Linked DNA regions of Homo sapiens: all the other regions are linked to region 2. Evidence: fine-mapped expression QTL. A gene starts in region 2. Each other region holds a variant in brackets. All regions are shown on one strand. Distances are between the middles of the regions.

The links. PIP is the estimated chance that this variant, and not a neighbour inherited with it, causes the effect.
Region 1: its variant is the best candidate, but not a certain one, in a credible set for the expression of THNSL1 in lung (TOPMed, PIP 0.71).
Region 3: its variant is the best candidate, but not a certain one, in a credible set for the expression of THNSL1 in iPS cells (HipSci, PIP 0.54).
Region 4: its variant is the best candidate, but not a certain one, in a credible set for the expression of THNSL1 in putamen (GTEx, PIP 0.54).

Annotation. Positions count from the first base shown.
Region 1 is chr10:24,992,259-24,997,539 of GRCh38, forward strand. ENKUR (enkurin, TRPC channel interacting protein) reads right to left here. Exons shown (of 6, transcript NM_145010.4): 3 at 3,388-3,611. It also overlaps a transcript of THNSL1 not described here. Among named protein-coding and RNA genes, the nearest start is that of ENKUR, 21 kb to the right of the region's middle. The variant C/A (reference allele first, on the strand shown) is at 2,061.
Region 2 is chr10:25,014,264-25,019,544 of GRCh38, forward strand. THNSL1 (threonine synthase like 1) reads left to right here and starts at 2,349. Exons shown (of 3, transcript NM_024838.5): 1 at 2,349-2,429. ENKUR (enkurin, TRPC channel interacting protein) reads right to left here and starts at 1,895. Exons shown (of 6, transcript NM_145010.4): 1 at 1,597-1,895. The coding sequence starts at 1,673. RefSeq lists silencers at 1,901-1,950, 2,281-2,480, 2,661-2,740 and enhancers at 2,024-2,786, 2,097-2,391, 2,991-3,070.
Region 3 is chr10:25,142,762-25,148,042 of GRCh38, forward strand. The region is part of intron 6 of LINC01516 (long intergenic non-protein coding RNA 1516); the gene reads left to right. Among named protein-coding and RNA genes, the nearest start is that of GPR158, 30 kb to the right of the region's middle. The variant T/C (reference allele first, on the strand shown) is at 2,104.
Region 4 is chr10:25,048,480-25,053,760 of GRCh38, forward strand. It overlaps a transcript of ENKUR not described here. Among named protein-coding and RNA genes, the nearest start is that of THNSL1, 35 kb to the left of the region's middle. The variant C/A (reference allele first, on the strand shown) is at 2,128.

The sequences.
Region 1 (5,281 bases), 22 kb before region 2:
TGAAATAATATGTATGTGTTCTGAAGTAAAATAAAGAAGGATAGTGGGGGAAAAGAAAATAATAGGGGCTATTTTAGATAAATAAGGAGGTCGGGGAGGAACTCTCCGAAGAAGCAGCAGTTGGGAGGTATGGTAGTCATTAAAATTCTGACAAATATTCTGTTCTCCTTCTAGACACTTGGTAGGACAACACTTTCCTGTGTTGTCCTCATAAAGTAAGATGTAGCCATATGCCCTGAATTGCTCAGTGTCAGTGGAGGTGACCTCTGCCACTTCTCGATAGGAGTCTTAAGAATTAGTGGATGACTTGCTGTGTCTTTTCCTGTCTGGTCTAGTGACAAGCAATGTTTAGATTTTTCTGGGTCCTGGAAGAAGGACAAGAAGCAGAGCCTGTAACAACCCTCAAAGGGCACGTGGCAAAAGCAAACAATAACACTTTGTTGCTTTAAGTTACTGAAATTTGGGGATTGTTTGTCATCACAGTGTAACTTAACCCATCCTGACTGAACAAGGGATAGAAATCCTAGATATAAATGTGTTCTGGAAGCTGCAGAGGACAATACAAATAGACTCTGGGAGGCCAGTATTCTGGTCAGCTGGTGCAGTGAGTGAGACAGGCCAATCCACTTCAGGAAACACTGAAGGAAACACCTCATTACAGCTTAGTACAATAATGGAGCTTCATCATGATGATTCTGCAGGATCACAGAAAGATTAAATTATATTTGGCATACTCTGTTTAAGAAAGAGAATGACTGGGCGCAGTGGCTCAAGCCTGTAACCCCAGCACTTTGGGACAGCTAGGCAGGAGAACTGCTTGAGCCCAAAAGTTCAAGACCAGCCTGGGCAACATAGTGAGACTCCATCTCTAAAAAAAATTAAATTAAGTGTTTTTAAAAAGAAAGGGAATGGTGTGATACAGTTCAGAAAAAAAACTCACAAATGAGCAAAAGCTTCAATGATCTGAAATATTCCTATGGGCTGAATCACCGGAGGCTAATGCATACTGTTAATAAAATTGCATATATTATACTATTCACTCTTTGTTCTTTTATTAGGTGTCACATTTTGTGTCAAGTGCTCAATATACTTTATATAATTTAATCCTCACTACAACCCTGTGATAAATCCAATGGATTGTTGGAAATCACAGTTACTAAGTGGCAGAGTTAGACTTTGAAAGAATGTCTTTACTGGTATTGCTAAATACCTCATGTGATCATCTATCCTTGCTTGTTTTCAGAAATTGTTTCTCATGGTATGAATGGCATATAATTCACTTGGAGCTGAAATGGGAGTTCACTCATTTTATAAAAATATGACATTGACTTTAAAAGAATTTATTTACTATCTCACCTACCAATGATAGATCTTTAAAACTTAACTCTGATAAGGGAAAAGTAAATTGAGTAAGTCTTTCATGAGCACTGATTGCTTAGTCAGCAACACCAAAAGGGCATTAGGTGCACAGTGCTTTCATGGTTTGGTAAACTCTGGTATTTTTCTGTTTCCATGATGGATACTCCAAATTTCCTGTTGAAGGTAGAAAATGCATTCAAGTGGACAGCTTAGAGAGCAGCCAGAAGGGAGGGGCAGAGTGTGTGACAGGTGGTGGCATGACCAGTAAAGACTTTTCATATGATCATGGAGAAATAATGGACTGGAAGTGGCTTTAAGAGCCATGAGAGTGAGTTTTCCACTTTTCCCTATCCTGTGGGACAACGACTATAAAACAGTTTCCAGGGGCCACAGAAGGAGGAAGTACCTGGAGAAGCCTGAAGTAACTTTATTGGCTTATCCTGGGAACTCCTAGATTCCTGAGAAGACAGTGTCCTCTGAAAACAGCCTTGAGGGTCCTGTTTTGATTTTCCACTGGCATTGGATTTATCATGGTAGATCACTGGACTCTTCAATTTTAGGTCCCTGTACATCACTATTGCAATTTCTTTTCTTTTTTTCTTTATCTCTCTTCCTTTTTCTTTATCTCTCTCTTCCTTTTTCCTTCCTTCCTTTCCTTTCTCCCTCCCTTCCTTCATTTCTTCTTGATGCAACTTATTATT[C/A]TTTAGAATTCTGCACTCTTTTTTTTTTTTTTTGACACCGAGTCTCGCTCTGTCACCCAGGCTGGAGTGCAGTGACGCGACCTTGGCTCACTGCAACCCCCGCCTCCTGGGATCAAGCGATTCTCGTGCCTTAGCCACCCGAGTAGCTGGGATTACAGGCACACACCACCACGCCTGGCTAATTTTTGTATTTTTAGTAGAGATGGGGTGTCACCATGTTGGCCAAGATGGACTTGAACTCCTGACCTCAAGCAATCCTCCTGGCCTTCTAAAGTGCTGGGATTACAGTTGTGAGCCACTGTGCCCAGCCTGCATTCATATTTTGTGTGTTTCAAGCACTTTTAAGCTTTATAAGTGCGCAAAATAAAGTAGCATTAAATAAGATTTTTTGTAAGCTTTTTTATTTTAAAGATCTGTATTTGGCTGGGTGCAGTGGCTTATGTCTGCAATCCCAGCACTTTGGGAGGCTGAGGTGGGTGGATCACTTGAGGTCAGGAGTCAAGACCAGCCTGGCCAACATGGTGAAACCCCCTGTCTACTAAATATACAAAAAAATAACCAGGCCTGGTGATGCATGCCTGTAATTCCAGCTACTTGGGAGGCTGAGTGAGGAGAATCACTCGAGCCGGAAGTTGGAAGTTGCAGTGAGCTGAGATTGCACCATTGTACTCCAGCCTGGGAAACAGCATGAGAATATGTCTCAAAAAAAATCTATATTTAAACTATAATGTTCACCAATGAAATTACACACCTTTTCAGATACAAATGAAGGACCCAAAAGGACTAGATTATTGTACAGTACTTTCAAGTCTTTACCCAAAACCAAAACCAAATAAATATATTCATGTTAAAATAGGAATGTGAATTATTTATACTACACTGATGAGATGGATGGCTCTAAAGCTGCATTCTGCTTCATTTTTCTTATTCAGCTGCCAAGTTACTGCAATTAATGACTAAATCTTAAGACCATCTGACAGCTTATTCCTTCTAGATTTACAGTAATGACTGCTTTTAGTGACATTTCCAACTAACCAAAAATATCTTTCAGAGAATGTTTATTAAAATTGTTAAATATGTTAATAATCAAAATTAAGGAAAACAATAACTTTTATCTACTGAACTATATGGAATTGTTTACTATGGGTTCTTTGTAACTTCATCCCATTACATTTGGACCAAACACAGATTGCAGAAGAATGAGAATCAGCAAAGTAGACAATGTGTCCAATGAGAGCACTAATAATGATAACATAGATGATCATCATGAACACCATATTTAAATTATTTGAATTTCAGCCCTCTTATTAATATACCACAAGGCTACCTTTTTATTGATGTACTTTGGAACTAGTCCTGAAGGCTCAAGATCATGCTTGTCTCCAGTTCTTTTATCAACATAAATTGGTTTAGGCTTTTTAGCCACTCCCATGATGATATCAGCTGCATTTGTATTTATAAAATTTTTTCCACTCTGTATTCCCATGACAGGATGATCAGTCTTCAATGGCACAGCAGGCTTTTTGGGCACGTTCCGATCAAAGTTTTTTTCTGTTAAATATAACATTTCTTTGTTAATATTAAACTACAAACACTGCTACTCAGTGCTATTTATAATATCCAGATATTTCACCACTTGTATATTGAAGTTGCAGTCATAATATATTTAAATATTTAAGATAGAAGTTTATGCTTACCCCCAAACTCATTGACTTGTAGACATTAAATATGCACAGCTTTTTACCTGTCAATCAGGCCTCAATAAAATAATTTTTTAAAAAGAAAAAAAGTCAGTAATTAAAATGGAAATAAATTAAGGGCAACATAATCAATTAATATGTTGAGGAGGCCGGGCACGGTGGCCCACGGTGACGTGGGCAGATCGCTTGAGCTCAGGAGTCTGAGACCAGTCTCGGCAACACAGTGAAACCCCATCTCTGCAAAAAATGCAAAGTTAGCCAAGCATGATAGTGTGCACCCTTAGTCCCAGCTACTCAGGAGGCTGAGGTGGGAGGATTGCTTCAGCCTGGGAGGCGGAGGTTGCAGTGAACCGAGATCATGCCATTGTACTCCAGCCTGGGTGACGGAGTGAGACTCTGTCTCAAAAAAGATCATATATGTGTGTGTGTGTGTGTGTGTATATATATATATATGAACAGTATATAAATACAAGGAAGAAGTATTTCTTGCTTATTGGCCGTTTTTACACAGCCTCTTCAGTTTGATCATTCCCATTGATCTATTTTAATATAGCCAAATGGTTTGCCACAATGCAAAAATGTGAAATAATTTATTTTTAAGAACTGAAAGCAACAACTGTCTTGAAAATGCCTTTTCCAATTTTAACCCCATCACAATTACTAAGGACTGACTTTATTCATTTCTGCATCATTTGACCTTTTTTATTAGTTTATATAACTTTTATTATCAGCAAAGCCAATACTTACAGTTAAAAGTCTATGAACTGGATTAGCCTCTTGTTAGGGGCTGAGTTATGTCCTCCTAGAATTCATATGTTGAAGCCCTAACCCCCAGTATCTCAGAATATAACTGTATTTGTAGAAAGGTCTTTAAAGAGGTAATTAAGTCAAGATGAGGTCATTAGAGAAGGCGCTGATCCAATATGACTGGTGTCCTTAGAAGAGGAAATTTGAACACAGACATACATATAAGGAAGAACACGTAAAGATACAGAGAAAAGATAACCATCTACAAGCCAATGAGAGATGCTTTAGAAGAAACCAACCCTGCTGCGTGTGGTGTTGCATGCCTGCAGTCCCAGCTACTTGGGAGGCTGAGGCAGGAGGATTGCTTGAAGCCAGGAGTGTGAGGCTGCAGTGTGCTTTCATCATGCCTGTGAATAGCCACCACACACTCCAGCCTGTGCAACATAGACCCTATCTCCAAAAATAAAAACAAACAAAAATACTCCTAAAAAAGAAAAGCAAAAATCAACTAATCCTCTGACATCTTGATGTTGGACTCCTAGTTCTCCAGAACTGTCCTCCAGAACTCTCATTGGACCGAGTTTTTAAAGCTTTTGCAAAACCCTGCATTCCTTTTTTTTTTTTTTTTCCTCTTTTTTTGAGACAGGGTCTCCCTCTGCCACCCAGGCTGGAGTGCAGTGATGCAATCATAGCTCACTGCAGCCTCAACTTCCTGGGCTCAGGTGATCCTCCCACCTGAGCCTCCCATATAGCTGGGACCACAGATGTGCATCA
Region 2 (5,281 bases):
GGCAGTTGTCAGAATCTTGCCAGTGTAAATTGACTTTAACCTAACAGAAATGATTCTTTTGGCATCACATTTGGGTGCCTCTATTTCCTCTAATCATAAATCTTTCTTCTACTCATTTCTTCATAGTAAAACCAAGAAGTCTGTGCTATCACTCCAACAGCACCAAGAACAGATATACTAGTGCAATATTATACACATAATAGGGGCTCCATTAATGCTTGCCAAATGAATAAAGACTGTTCCTATAAATTTTTTTTGAAAAAAAAAATCGTCTAGATGCAGTAAAGCTTTTTAATTTGCCAAAGAACAGAATACCTACCTAATAAAATAACTCTCAAATTCAATATTCTATAGAAATACAATCTACCAATCTGTTATAGAGGAGTTTTATCTCATGTAATATGCAGGAATTTGAAACCAAAAGTTGGTGCAACAATAGAAAATTTGAAAATAAATTCTGCAACTGTGCCATAACTTACTTTACATTCCTCTTTCCAGTCTCTAGATGTTGATATGCTAATGGAGATGTAATACAGTTACTGCTCTAATTTAAACCAGATACTTAAAATTGAAGAAGCTGCCTACTTGTTGAAGCTATTACCCTAATACTAGTAAAAATAATTGACCATTAGATCTAAAAGGGGCCTTGGATATTATCTGGTACATTTATCTCACAGATCAGTAAACAAATGAAACTTTATTCTAAAGTTCACAAAGACAATTAATTGCTAGGCCCGATTTTTAGTCCAGTCCTTTTCAAATGTGGTTTTGACTTGCATACGGACAAGGATGATGGTAAAAGACAGGAAACATTTCAAGTCCTAGGAGAAATGAGATTTTCTCCACTACTTTCTTTGCTCCCCACAGATTTAAGTAAGTTCTAAGAAGTCCCTACAGATGGGAGTAACTGAAGTGCTTCCTTTGCACGTTTTTGAGATTTGGAGAATTTAAGAGGTTCTAAGACCTATGTAAAATTTCAACTCAATTACATATTTTTTGGTTCATTATCTATCCACCAATTCTTCCTTCCATTTAAACCATTAGATCTGAAAAAGTCCTTAGAAACTGCCTAATAGTGGTAGATATTTCGTTTCACTGATCAAAAACCTGAGGCTCAAAAGCAAATGTAAATTTATATTTCATAAAAATCTTGGGGGAAAAGTCCTATCCTATCCCATTAGAGAGGGAGTAGTGCAGTTAGAAATACAACACCGAACTCCTGAAACCAAACATCAAGTATCCTTAAACAAGATAATAGAATTGTGATTTTTTTCTTTTCAACATGAAACTTCATACTATGCTGTATATCACATATAATTAAATTACACAATAATCACATACCGTATTAATAAGAGGTTAAGTGTAATATAATAAAATGGTCATCTCACAGCGCCAGACTGCCCTCTCTGTAAAACTGTGAGATGCTGAATACCTAGATATTTCGACCTTTTCTCTAACAAGTTATCCTCCAAGGCTACTTCATCGAGGCAAAAATACATTTTATTTATTATTAAAAATTCCAGTATATGTATGCTTAATTAATACTGAGTATTCCCCATTCTTGTTTCAAGTGATAGTCTTTGCTTATCCACATACCTAGGAGGCTGGGGAGGCTCCTTCAAGTCACTGGGTATGAGGTTATAAATGCACTCAGAAGAGCACGTTGGATCCATGGCCACCAAATGACTCCTTAAAAGCTACTCTCCACAACTTTTTTCTCCCTGTCCCAGTATCTCCGTCCCTTTCTTCACTGCTTCCCCTTTCTTTCTTCTTCGCCTTCTGAAGGACCACAGGTTCTCTCCTTCACATCGTCCCCCTTTAACCCCCTCTTAGCAGTCCTCTCTCGGGAAGAAAACACCCTATTTCTCTCCGGATTGCTAAGCGTCGTTGACTGTGCGGTTGCCGTGGAAACCGTTACTAGGCAACGAGGAAGTGGCAGGCAGCACCGCAAACTAGGTCTCCCCTCTTCCCTCTTTCTGCAGCGCCTTCTGCTAGAGAAGCTCATTTGGAAGCCACTGTTTTTACGTGCCTTTGAAAGTTAACGGGGTGAAAATGATGTCCCCTTAAAAACTGTGCTCTTTTCTATTTCTGTGTATCTGGGGAAAAAAGAAAAATCCTAGTAGAGACGGCAAAGCGCAGCTGGTGCGCAGGCGTCACCCAATAAGGTTTTTGTGAGCAGGCCCCAATCGCGGTGTGGGCGGAGCGAGCGGCTGAGACCACGAGGACGCAAGGCCAGCGCCGCCAGGGAGACGAGGGAGGGGAGGAGCCTGAGGAGATCGGAGTGCTCGGATAGGCTACAGTGAGAAAGGAGAGTCACGTGCCCTGCGCGAGGCCGCTCGGGGAAGGGCGTGGAGCGGAGGCACGCTGGCCGCCGCAGGCACAGGCGCAGAGTCCACTGCGCGGGGGCGGGACCGGGGAGCTAGCTGCAGGTACGGTGCTCCGTCTCCTGTGGAGGCTTTAGCGGCTCGTGGACACTGCTCCCCCATTTCCTTTCATTTCCCCCGTCTTCTCAGTGAGATTTCCTTGGTGAGTTATTGGAGGAGAAAGGAAGGAAAACTAGAAGCCAGCCCGCTCCCATCGCATGCCTTTCCCCGTACCGTCCCTTCCCCTTTCCGCTACTCGCTGGTCATCTCAACTCTGCGCGCATTTTTCCTGCTGCTTCTGGTCGAGGCTCCTCGGAACGCCGCGCAGCCCTGCCCGCCACGTGTGTGAGTGCGCGCACGGGGCCCGCGGCCTCCTCCGCCTGCTGCGCTCGCCCTCCCGCCCCTGCTCCCGGGACCGCCCCTTGGGCGGTCCTCCGGGTCGGCTCTGCGCCTGCTCTTCCCCGGGTCGGGACTCTTCCTCTAGGTCGTTCTCCAGGAACCAGTGGACCTGCTCTTTGTAAATGAGCAGCCTAAACTAAGAGGAGAAGCCTTTTAAGTGGGCCTTTACGTTTTTGTCCAGTTTTTGGTGTCCCTTGTTGGAAAATTGTCTTCTGAGAAGCGGTTTTATTCCTTTTTGTTCCACCTGGTCACCCGTAAATCTATGCACATGGGCCTGCCGTAGGAAAGTCATTTAGACGCTTTTACCCGAGTGTTTAAAAGACATTTTGGTAATAGGATTTGGGGAGGAAGATGGATGCCTCTGAACCACCGGTACAGAGGCCACTCTGCCCGAAGGAAATAAAGCTTCCCGGAGAGGAGAGAAAACACACTTGAGTCTGGGTTTCTCACTGCCTGGTTGGCTGGCGGAGTGATTAAAACAACACAATGGCCTGGTGAACCTTTTAGTTCCTGTATAAAAAGGCTTTACTGAATGTGTAGGTCCTTACTTTGGGCTCTTACTGAATTTCACTACATAAGAATACGTTAAGTTTTTCTTTTTTTTTTTTTTGTATACAGTTGATTTTAATTTTTGTCCCAGACGCTTAGGGAAAATTCTCCAGATTTCTTCACATCAGATTGTCTTCCAAAACATTTTAGATAGATGGATCTGTAGATCTATATTTAGATCTAGATCCAAATCTATATCACTTTGCCCCTTTCTTTTCGCCCTTGAGTATTTTATGTTTGGGATTTCTGTTTAGCAAGTATAGAGAAAAAATTTGGCGGGAAACCTCCTGTATGTACGAAGATTCGAACCAAGGACTCATGGAATGATAACGCCATTAGCCAAGTGGATAGTCACTGGCTAAAGCTTATGAATTTTCTAATTAGAAGGAACACCTTGAGACTATTTGTGTTAATCAGTTCCTGAAATAGCAAGTAAGGGCAAAACATGATTTCTGCAGTTAGCACCAACTGGCCTTTGGTAGCCTTGATGTTCTGGGGTTACTGAAATAAAATAATTTCACTGATGTCTGTATATTTATTATGCTTTAAAAAATGCTAAACAATTTGTGCAAGACCTCACTGTGGTATAGTTAGTTTACAGCCATGAGCAGGTTGTTAAATCATTTGGAAAAAAACTTTTCTTTTTTCTTAGACATTTGATCTGCAATTCTCCTTGCCTTTTGAAAGTGTGTTTAAGCAAAATTATTTCTAGTTTTTATAATGCTCTTGAAATGACACTTCAAAAAAATGCCTGTGTCCACCGCATGTCCACAGGGAATTAACTGGTATATACCTACAGGGATGAACAAACTGTCTATAAAGGGGTAGACAGTAAATATTTCAGGCCTTTTTAGGCCAAGTGGTTATGTTGCAACTACTCAGTTTTGCCATTGTAGCTCAAAAGCAGCCAAAGACGGTACTGAACAAATATGTGAGCACATGAATGACTGAAGTTGTGCTTCAAAGAAACTTGATTTATGAAAATGATGGTGGGCCAGATTTAGCCTGTGGATTGTAGTTTGCACAGATCCTAGATCCCCGTATATAATGGTATGCCTGTGATGTACATAAACAAATGAGAGTTGTTTTTTTTTTTTTTTTTTTTGCGAAGGATTATTTTAATCTATTTAAATGAATAAAATGGGTGTAGATGAGTATATAAGACAATTGGAAGGTAAATAAACCCTTTATAAAGACAGGTTCTTTATAATTCTCAAAGTTATAGAATTGTGGATACTAAAGTTTTCAATTAAATATTCGAGATCGTTAAGAATATGTCTAACAGCAGAAGTCTAACGGCAGAAAAAGCTTAGTCAGCTTTGATAGTAATATAAAGACTAAGTGATGAACTTGCAAAATTGTTTTAGTTGTGAGATCCTTGTGATTACAGAACTATACTGGATTGTGTGGTCCTTCCACCCTCACCTCTGTTTCATGGCAAGTGGGAGGCCCTCTGAATGAAAAGTTTGAGAGAATTTTTGGTCAGAAGTCAGAAGCAGTAGAGCTTAACCTCCTTTTGGCTAGTTTGTGTCCTGATACACAGTTAGTTCTCCATATCTGTGAATTTCCCATTCTCAGATTCAACTAATTACAGATTGAAAATATTTTAAAATTTTAGTTGGGCACAGTGGCTCATACCTGCAATCCAAGCACTTTTTGAAGGCCAAGGCAGGAAGACTGCTTGAGCCCAGGAGTTGGAGACCAGCCTGGGCAACATGGCGAAACCCCCTCTCTACTAAAAATACTAAAATTAGCTGGGTGTGGTGGTGCGTGCCTTTAGTCCCAGCTACTTGGGAGGCTGAGGTGGGAGGATTGCTTGAGCCTAGGAAGTCAAGGCTGTAGTGAGCCAAGATTGTGCCACTGCACTCCTGCCTGGGCAACAGAGTGGGAGCCTGTCTGAAAAACAAACAAAAACACGAAAATAATGGAACAGTAAAAATACCACAAACAAAAAAGCAAATTAGTACAAC
Region 3 (5,281 bases), 130 kb after region 2:
CTCTGTGGGAAGTGGCATATCTAGCCAATTCTCAGCTATTATGTTTGTCTAATCAGCTAGGTTCAGTGAACAGGGCTGTGAAGCATTTTTTAATAAAGGAGTTGAGAAAATATGAGGCAATACCTTAAAAGATGTTTCAGCAAGGACTAAGCAGCCCTGAAGGGGTTCCAAAAGGAAGTAGGAGATGCTGACAGAAAAGGAGAGTGACTTCCAGAACCAACTGGGTGGGAAGAATAGGAACGCTCATTCTGGGACTGTCCTTCACGTCTTCAGATTGACTTATTTTGGCAAGGGGGAGTTCTAGGCAACTATGTAACATATTGCCCAAAGCAGAACACTTTTGAGAATGAAAAATGGGGTGTTCCATGAAAAGACCATATATACAAAGCAACTCCTAAATGCCAAAGGAGCTGAGAAACCAAAGAAGGAGGCACATCAGTCCAGTGTGTTCTTAAAGGTGTTTTATTGGGGAACTGACAGACACAAGTGTGGTCTTGGGTGACCACAGGACAGGTGGCCCTCTGCACTGTTATTCCCCAGATCCAGGGCTTATATCTCTAGGGAAAGGGTATCTGTGCTCCAGCAAGACAAGGCAAAGCAACTCTTCAGTACAGGCAAGAATGCTATACTGTGTGCCATAACTTATAATTTGTGTGATAACATTAAGGTAGATTTGTTCTTACAATAGGGATAGTAAATAAAGGATGAATCAGGAGGCGTTCATGCAGCCGGGAAATAATCAGAAGTCAACATGGGAGATTAGCCTCTAAGATGGAGTCAACGGCTGGGTGCGGTGGCTCATGCCTGTAATCCCAGCACTTTGGGAGGCCGAGGTGGGTGGATCACCTGAGGTTGGGAGTTTGAGACCAGCCTGACCAACATGGTGAAACCCTGTTTCTACTAAAAATACAAAAATTAGCTGGGCATGGTGGTGTGCACCTGTAATCCCAGCTACTTGGGAGGCTAAGGCAGGAGAATAGCTTGAAACCAGGAGGAGGAGGTTGCAATGAGCTGAGATAGTGCCACCGAACTCAACGTGGCAACAGAGTAAAACTCTGCCTCAAAAAAAAAAAAAAGATGGAATCACTTTTATCTCCACATGGAGGAACTCTTAAAAATTATACAGGATCAACAGGTGTAAATAAGGGATTTACACCTGTCTTGGGATCCCCCTACTTACAGGAAGTACTCATGAGGAATCTCTCTGAATTTTTTTTTTTTTGAGACAAAATCTTGTTTTGTCACCCAGGCTGGAGTGTAGTGGTGTGATCCTGGCTCACTGCAACCTCCGCCTCCTGGGTTAAAGAGATTCTCCTGCCTCAGCCTCCCGAGTAGCTGGGATTACAGGCATGTGCCACCATGCCCAGCTAATTTTTGTATTTTTAGTAGAGACGGGGTTTCACCATGTTGGCCAGGCTGGTCTCGAACTCCTGACCTTAGGTGATCCACCCTCCTTGCTCTCCCAACGTGCTGGGATTACAGGCGTGAGCCACTGCACCGGCCTCTCTCTGGAAGGTTTAATAAAGAATTGAGCATTTTCCCCTATAGAGGCAAATAGAAAGTCTGCTTCCATCTATCAGGTCCACATGCAGTCATAAGACAATTGTTCATATGAAATTTTTAAATGTCTTGATTCCTATTTAGGTATTATTGGTTCAAAGTAAAAGGTGAAATATAAAAACAGACTCCAAATGGAGAGATAGGTTAGGGCCAGGTTGTGAAGGGCTTTGAATGCCATATTGAGGGGTCTCCACTTAATCCTGTCTGTAAAAAGAAACTGCCAGAGGGGGATGGATGCAAAATGACCTGTGGCTTATGCATACCACCCTGGAGATGGTGTTGAGAATGGGTGAATGTAACAAACACATTGGTAGTGGTGACGCTTTTGGTGGAAAGTCCATCGTGACCGTGGTCCAGGTGACAGTGCTGGGAAGTTGAGTGAGAGCAGCAGCAGAGGTCACGGGGAGAAGTCACCGTATTTAAAACACAGTGTGGAGCTAGAATCAATAACACTCAGTGAATTACTGTATATGGAGAATGAAGAAGAAGAAGGAATCAAAGATGGACTCAGGGTTCTCAAAATATTGACTAGGTGAAGGGCAA[T/C]GCTATTATTCCCGATCAGGGACACGGGTAGACGAATGAGATTAAGGACATGGTAACTTCTATGTTTTAAATAAAGTTTAAAGACTGTAGCTGGGTGTGGCGGCTCATGCCTGTAATCTCAGCACTTTGGGAGATTGAGACAGAAAGCTTGCTTGAATTCAGGAGTTCAAGACCAGCCTGGACAATATAGGGAGACCTCGTCTCTATTTTAACAATGACAGAAAACAAAAACAAAAACGAAAAGAAAGAAAGAAAGAAAAAGAAATGAAAAGAAAAAATAAAGAATGTATATGATACGCCAGGGTTTTGCTGGCATTTTATTTGTTACCTCAATCTTAACAGTTTTCTGAAGTAGGCCTTGTCATTACCTCCATTTAAAAAAAATCTTAAAACATTTTAAATTGACAAATAATAATTGTACATATTGATGGGGTACATAGTAATTCTTTGTGTTGGGAGCATTCAACAGCCTCCTTCTAGCTATTTGAAACTGCATAATATTTTACTGTTAACCATAGTCATCCTACAATGGAATAGAACACTAGAACTTATTCCTCCTTTCTAGTGGTAATCTTGTATCCTTTGATAAATCTCTCCCTATCCCTTTCTTTCCCCTACCCTTCCACGCCTCTGGTATTCTTTTCTTACTTCTATGAGATCAACTTTTTTTAGCTTCCACTATGAGTGAGTACATGCAGTATTTAACTTTCTGCTCCTGCCTTATTTCACTTAACATAATGTCCTCCAGTTTTATCCAAACTGTAGCAACTGACAGGACCTCATTCTTTTTTATGGCCGAGTAGTATTCCATTGTGTATACACCACATTTCCTTTATTGTATCATTTGTTGTTGGACACCTGAGTTGATTCTATATCTTGGCTGTTGTGACTACTACTGCAATAAACATGGGGGTGTAGATGTCTTGTTGACATAAGGAAAGCATAGAGAGGTTGTGTGCTTCACTCTGGCCACCCAGCTAATAGATGGTAAAGATGGAACATGAAGCCAGCAAGGGCTCCCACTTTTTATCATTGTGCCTTTCACTCAGAGATGAATTTTAAAAGTGTGAGGTGGCGGCAACTCTGGAGCTATCTGATTATTGGTATACATTTGACAGAGGCAAAGCTTGTTCCTTTTCTGATTTTTAAAAATAATTTTCTCTATTTTATTTATTTTATTCTTTTTTGTTTTTTGAGACGGAGTCTTGCTCTGTCACCCAGGCTGGAGTGCAGGCATGATCTCAGCTCCCTGCAACCTCTGCCTCCCAGGTTCAAGCAATTCTCCTGCCTCAGCTTCCCAGGTAGCTGGGATTACAGGCGCCCACCACGCCCAGCTAATTTTTGTATTTTTAGTAGAGACAGGGTTTCACCATGTTGGCCAGGCTGGTCTTGAACTCCTGACCTCAAGCAATCCACCCACCTTGGCCTCCCAAAGTGTTGGGATTACAGACGTGAGCCACCGCGCCTGGTCTGATTTGTTTTATTTTCCTTCTATGTAGGTGCGAGTATCTCTTAAGGCTTGATACAGAGCCCCACGCTCTTCTCTTCCTAGGTTGTATCTACATTCACGGCTGCAACCATCACTCCATCCACGGGATGACTCCAGAGCATTTATCTCTGTCCTTGACAATTTCTCTAAATGCGTGTGACACATCTTCAGCTGCCTGCGAAACAGTCCCGGTTGCAAGGCCACTGCCATTAAAATACTCAAGCCCTTATGAAGGATCTGTAGTAGCCAGCTGTGTTAATCTAGAAAAGACACCTCTTCAGAGCTTTGCTTTTCTATCTGTCAGAAAAGGTGGTTTAAAGTAGATCTACAGTCTAAGACTTTAGTCTCCAGTCTAAGGCCTGGAAGGACTAACTGTTGGCGGAACCTCCTTCCTTTGCCTAAAGTTCCTATAGCTGTAACTTGTGCTGCCCAATACAATTTAATTTAAATTTAATTAAAAGTATATATGATTAAAAATTCCCTCCCTCAGTCTCACTAGCCACTTTGAAATGCTCAATGGCCGCATGTGACCGGTGGCTACCACAACGGACAATGCTGATGGAGAACATATTCATTATTGCAGAATGTTTTATTGGATATTTTTGTAATTTAAGCAACTATCAGGTCTGTATTGGTCAGGGTTCTCTACAGTGACAGGACTAATAGGATAGTTGTATATATGAAGGGGAGTTTGTTAAGGAGAATTGACCCACATGATCACAAGGTGAAGTCCCACAATAGGCTGTCTGTAAGCTGAGAAGCAAGGAAACCAGTCCGAGTCCCAAAACCTCAAAAGTAGGGATGCCAACAGTGCAGCCTTCAGTCTGTGGCAGATGGCCTCAGAACCCCTGGCAAACCACTGGTATAAGTTCAAGAGTCCAAAAGCTGAAGAATTTGGAGTCCAATGTTTGAGGACAGGAAGCATCCAGCATGGGAGAAAGATAGAGGCCAGAAGACCCAGCAAGTCTCATCCTTCCAGGTTCCTCTGCCTGCTTTTCTCCTAGCCACGCTGGCAGCTGATTAGATGGTGCCCACCCAGATTGAGGGTGGGTCTGCCTCTCCCAGTCCATTGACTCAAATGTTAATCTCCTTTGGCAACATCCTCACAGACACACCCAGGAACATTACTTTGCATCCTTCAATCCAATCAAGTTGACACTCAATATTAACCATCAGAAGGTCTAAAGCCAAAATGTCTACAGCTATCGTATCCAAAGTCTCCCCATTCACCCAATTTTTTTTTTTTTTTTTTTTTGAGATGAAGTCTTGCTCTGCCACCCAGCCTGCAGTGAAGTGGTGCAATGTCTCGGCTCACTGATCTTCTTCCTCCCAGGTTCAAGCGATTCTCCTGCCTTAGCCTCCCGAGTAGGTGGGTTTATAGGCACCCACCACCACGCCTGGCTAATTTTCATATTTTTAGTAGAGATGGGGTTTCATCATGTTGGCCAGGCTGGTCTCGAACTCCTGACCTCCAGTGATCCGCCTGCCTCAGCCTCCCAAAGTGCTGGGATTACAGGCGTGAGCCACCGTGCCCGGTCCCCATTCACTCAAATTTTGTTCTCCCTGTATCTCACAGTAGCATGTAACATTATTGTTATGGACTGAAATGTGGCCCCTTCAAATTTGTATATGGAAGCCTTAAGTTCCAATGTAACTATATTTGAAGATAGGGCCTTTAAAGAACTTTTA
Region 4 (5,281 bases), 34 kb after region 2:
TATAAAGGGACGGGTAATGGGTTAGCGCATCAAGGTCTCCATGGGGAAGCACAGTCCAGCAGAAAGAAAACCAAGCCCCAGTCGTGGAGTTCACACCAAGCAGAAGCTGCTGATGAGAAACAAAGTCCCACACAGGCAATGGCCCAAATCAACAGCCAAAGCAAATGAGATGCAGTCCATGAGCCAAGGTCTCAGATAGCTGTTCTCAGCCCTGCTTTTATGACTTTGCAAAGGGTGTGCTCAGGCTGGGGTTTCAGGGCGTGCTGGGAGTCCAGAGAGGCAAGGGATTCTTCCAAAGTCATTCTCAGATGTTGGAATCTCTTGCAGTTGAGGTCTTTTTATATCTTTACCCCAGCGATTTGGGGTAAGAATAAAACTTCATTTTTTTTTTCTTGAAGATAGATACAGATCAACTTGGAAATGTCCAATGTTATGGGGAAAAGGGAGGAAATGGACATGGAAATCAGAAAGAAAGAGGAAGGAGAAGGCATTCAGTGCCTTCTAGGAGGCTGTATATAAAGAATAGCGATTAAGAAGGCTGGCTTTGAAGTCGTGATGCCTTTATTTTAACCACATCACTACTATTTGCTAGCTGAGTGACCAGGGCAGCATGTTATTGAACCTCTTCACTTTTCATCTGTAAACTGAAGATGATAACATATCCTTCCTTCTAAAGTTGTTGGGAGGGTTAACTGTAAATTACTTAGAGTACTTTGCACAAAGTAGGTGCTCAATATATTTTAGGTGCTACTTCGTTCTCTAGGGGTACATTCTCTCAGATAAGTATTGCTCTCCTACAACGTGCTAGGCACTTTGCTAGGTACTGGGGAAACTGTGATAAACAAAATGGCCAATTTCAGGAGGTAATAAGTGAACAGAATTTGGAAATCTCAATAAGGGTATGTAAATAAAAACTTATGGAAGGTAAAAAAAAGTCAACTTGAGTTACAGATGTCAGGAGATCATCATTCTACTAGTTAAGTTGGGGAAATAGAAAAAGTAATGTTTGTATCAAAACAAGACTTTGGCCAGGCATGGTGGCTCATGCCTATAATCCCAGCACTTTGGGAGGCTGAAGCAGGCAGATCACCTGAGGTCAGGGGTTCGAGACCAGCCTGGCCAACATGGTGAACCCTCATCTCTACTAAAAATACAAAAATTAGCCAGATGTGGTGGCACATGCCTGTAATCTCAGCTACTTGGGAGGCCAAGGCAGGAGAATCACTTGAACCTGGGAAGCGGATGTTGCAGTGAGTCGAGATCATGCCACTGCACTCCAGCCTGACAGAGTGAGACTCCGTCTCAAAAAAAAAAAAAAAAAAGACTTCAAGAATTAAAATTTAAAAAAAAAAAGAGTTAAGAGTTTCTGGGAGACAGTAGTGTATTAGACCATTTTTGCATTGTTATATAGGAATACCTGAGGCTGGGTAATTTATAAGGAAAAGAGGTTTAATTGGCTCATGGTTCTGCAGGCTGTACAAGCAGCATGGTGTCAGCATCTGCATGGGGTGAGGGCCTCAGGAAGCTTCCAATCAAGGTGGAAGGTGAAGGGGGAGGAGGCATGTCACATGATGAGAGCAGGAGCAAGAGGGCAGGGGGATGTCCCAGGCTTTTAGACAACCAGATCTGGTGTGAACTAACTGAGCAAGAACTCACTCATCACCAAGGGGATGGTGCCAAACCACTCAGAAGGGATCTGCCCTTATGATCCAGTCACCTCCCACCACTGGGGATCATATTTCAAATTTCAACATGAAATTTGGAGGGGACAAGCATCCAAACCATATCAAGTAGTAAGAGAAACCATTTTGTATTAGTCTGTTCTCACGCTGCTAATAAAGACATACGTAAGACTGGGTAATTTGTAAAGGAAAGAAATTTAATTGACTCACAGTTCCACATGGCTAGGGAGGCCTCACAATCGTGCAGAAGCCAAAGGAGGAGCAAAGTCACGTCTTGCATGGTGGCAGGCAAGAGAGCATGTGCAGGGGAACTGCCCTTTATAAAACCGTTAGATTTCGTGAGACGTATTCACTACCACGAGAACAGCATGAGAAAGACCTGGCTCCATGATTCAATTACCTCCCACTGGTCCCTTCTACGACTCGTGGGAACTATGGGAGCTAC[C/A]ATTTGAGATTTGGGTGGGGATTCAGGCAAACCATATCATGTTTCATCCTGAGAAACATGTTATTGTAATGACAAGGAGCTGGGGTGATAAGAATGTGCAGAGGAGACAGTGAAACCCAGGATTAGATGCTGCGGTTTGTGGAGAATTTCTTAAAAGGAGGTAATGCTGTCAAAAAGAACAAGGGAATGTCTATGAGACCTACTAATAAGTGGAGTTAAGTCAGATTATCAAACAATATATATGTACCCTACTTAAGTTTCAAAAAAGGTGAAGGGCATTTTATGGTAAAGGAGGACTGTCTTATTAAAATTAACATGGGTCACCTTTGTGCTGATGAAATGTGGTATAAAAAATTTGTTTCTAATTCATTCCAAACTTCATACTTACTTTTTACTGATGATTTATTTTCCCGTGCATGCCTTATAGGTACAGACTTTGAAAATTATGTATTTTATGTATCCTTGGAACTTACAAGTTTCTGCACTTAAAACAGTACACAAAAGCTACATAAACGACCGTATAAAACTGAATGCAGTTGCAAGTCTTGTCCAAAGGATGAATGATTTAAGGGTTTTATAGTTCTTCCCACTCCTGAAATATAGCTCCTCTTCTTGCTTCCAGTTTATTAATAGAGAATAAGCATTTCTACAGTTTGAGATAACATTTGAAATGCAAACCCTCCTTGGAGAAGCAGTACATATGTTCCTATTCCTGCAAAGCTGTGTTGGGTCCCTATTAGGCTGTTCTTGCATTGTTATAAAGAAATACCTGAGACTGGGTAATTTATAAGAAGAGAGGTTTAATTGGCTCATGGTTCTGCAGGCTGTACAGGAAGCATGATGCTGGCATCTGCTCAGCTTGTGGGAAGGCCTCTGGAAGCTTATAATCATAGCAGAGGGTGAAGGCGGAGCAGGCATGTCACTGTGAAGGCAGGAGCAAGGGACAGGAGAGGTGCCACGCACTTTTAAACTACCAGATCTTACAAGACCTCCCTATCACAAGGACAGCACCAAGCAGATGGTGCTAAACCATTTATGAGCAATCCACCCCCATGACCCAATTACCTCTCACAAGGCTCCGCCTCCGGTACTGGGGATTACAATTCAAGAGGAGATTTGGGCAGGGACAAATATCCAAACTATATCAGGTCCTTTCTCTGAAGGTTCGAGAGAGAAGTCACCAAGCCATGGAAGCAATCAAGGCAGAACGAGGAGTACAGAGGCTAATGACCACAAATCCATTGTCCCTACTAGGTCGTCATTCTGCTTAGAGCCTGTCCCCTGTTCCTCTGAAATGATTCTGCAATTCACAGCTAGGATACCTAGTGGCTTGTAGCCATATCTGCATCAGCAACATATACATTTATAAAATAATGTTATTTTCAATTGTTTTAATAGAAAAAAATTCACATTAGGCAGCAAAAATAACAATTTAAGCACCAAAGAATAGAGCAGAAAGTCCATTGTCATTTATCATTAACTAGAAAGTTATGTTCCTTAGAATTCTTGGGTAGAATGTACCAACAGGAGGGACAGGCTGGGTCTCTCACTGTATAATATCTGTGGGAGAGTCTAATAAGTGAGAAATGATTACCTTAGTTGAGCAATTTGATAAGACAAAGCAAACAAAAATAAACCTAAATCTAGCCCTGGCTGTCTGGCAAGTAAAGAGGTCAGTATGCTAAAGGCTGCATTTTATGGATCATGATAAGAGGTGGCCTTATTCGGGCCTTTCAAATTTTTCCTTCATTAACATATTCTTGTTTAAGTATTAAATATTATTATATATTATGGTAAGATATATAATGTTGACTGACATTTCTAAATCCTCAGGAATAGTCACCTAGTAAGTACATTTACACTAATCATGGATTTAAGAAAGTACTAGAGGCGGGGCTCAGTGGCTCATGCCTGTAATCGCAGGCCAAGGTGGGAGAATCGCTTGAAGCCAGCAGTTTGAGACCAGCCTGGGAAACACAGTGAGACATCATCTCTACAGATTTTTTTAAAAAAAATTTAGCTGGGTGTGGTTCTGAGAACCTGTAGTCTCAGCTACTCAGGAGGCTGAGGCAGGAGGATTGCTTTGAGCTCAGGAGTTCGAGGCTGCAGTGAGCTATGATCACACCACTGCACTCCAGCCTGAGTTACAGAGTGAGACTCTCTCTTTTTTTTCTTTTTTCTTTTTTTTGAGACGGAATTTCATTCTTGTTACCCAAGCTGGAATGCAATCTCAGTTCACTGCAAGCTCCGCCTCCTGGGTTCAACTGATTTTCCTGCCTCAGCCTCCCGAGTAGCTAGGATTACAGGCATGCGCCACCATGCCTGGCTAATTTTGTATTTTTACTAGAGACAGGGTTTCACCATGTTGGTTGGGCTGGTCTTGAACTCCTGACCTCAGGTGATCCATCCACCTCGGCCTCCCAAAGTGCTGGGATTACAGGCATGAGCCACCACACCCATCTTGTCTCTTTAAAAAAAAAAAAAAAAGGACTGGAGGAAATAAAATGGGAGGAAACTAATTTTCAGTTAGGCACCTTTTTTCATTTTTTAAATTTTATTGTAAACCGACATTATAATTGTATATATTTATGCAGCACAAAGTGACATTACAATATGTGTATACAAGGTGGAATGGTAAAATCAAGCGAATTAACATATCCATCACTCCAAATACTTATCCCTTTTTGTGGTGAGAACATTTGAAATTTACTCTCTTAGCAAATGAAGTATATAATACATTGTTATTAACTATAGTCTCCAAGCTATGCAATCGATCTCAAAAAACGTATTCCTCCTGTCTAACTGAAACTGCACCCTTTGACTAATATCTCCCCATTTCCCCCACTTCCCAGCCTCCGGTAATCATTATTCTACTCTGCTCCTAGGAGTTCACTGTTTTAGATTCTGCATATAAGTCAGGCCCTGCCCTATTTGTCTTTCTGTGGGCACTAATTTTCTATTATAAATAGTTAGATGCAGCAGCTAGCTCAATGAAAGTAGGTGACTTCAGGTTCATAGGACAATAATAGTAATATTAACAATATTACCTTCGGGTTTTTTACTGCACCATAATTTATTCAATTAATTTTCTGTTCTTGGTCACTCAGGTAGTTTGAAATATTTCGAATGCTGTAAATAACCCTGCAATGAGCAT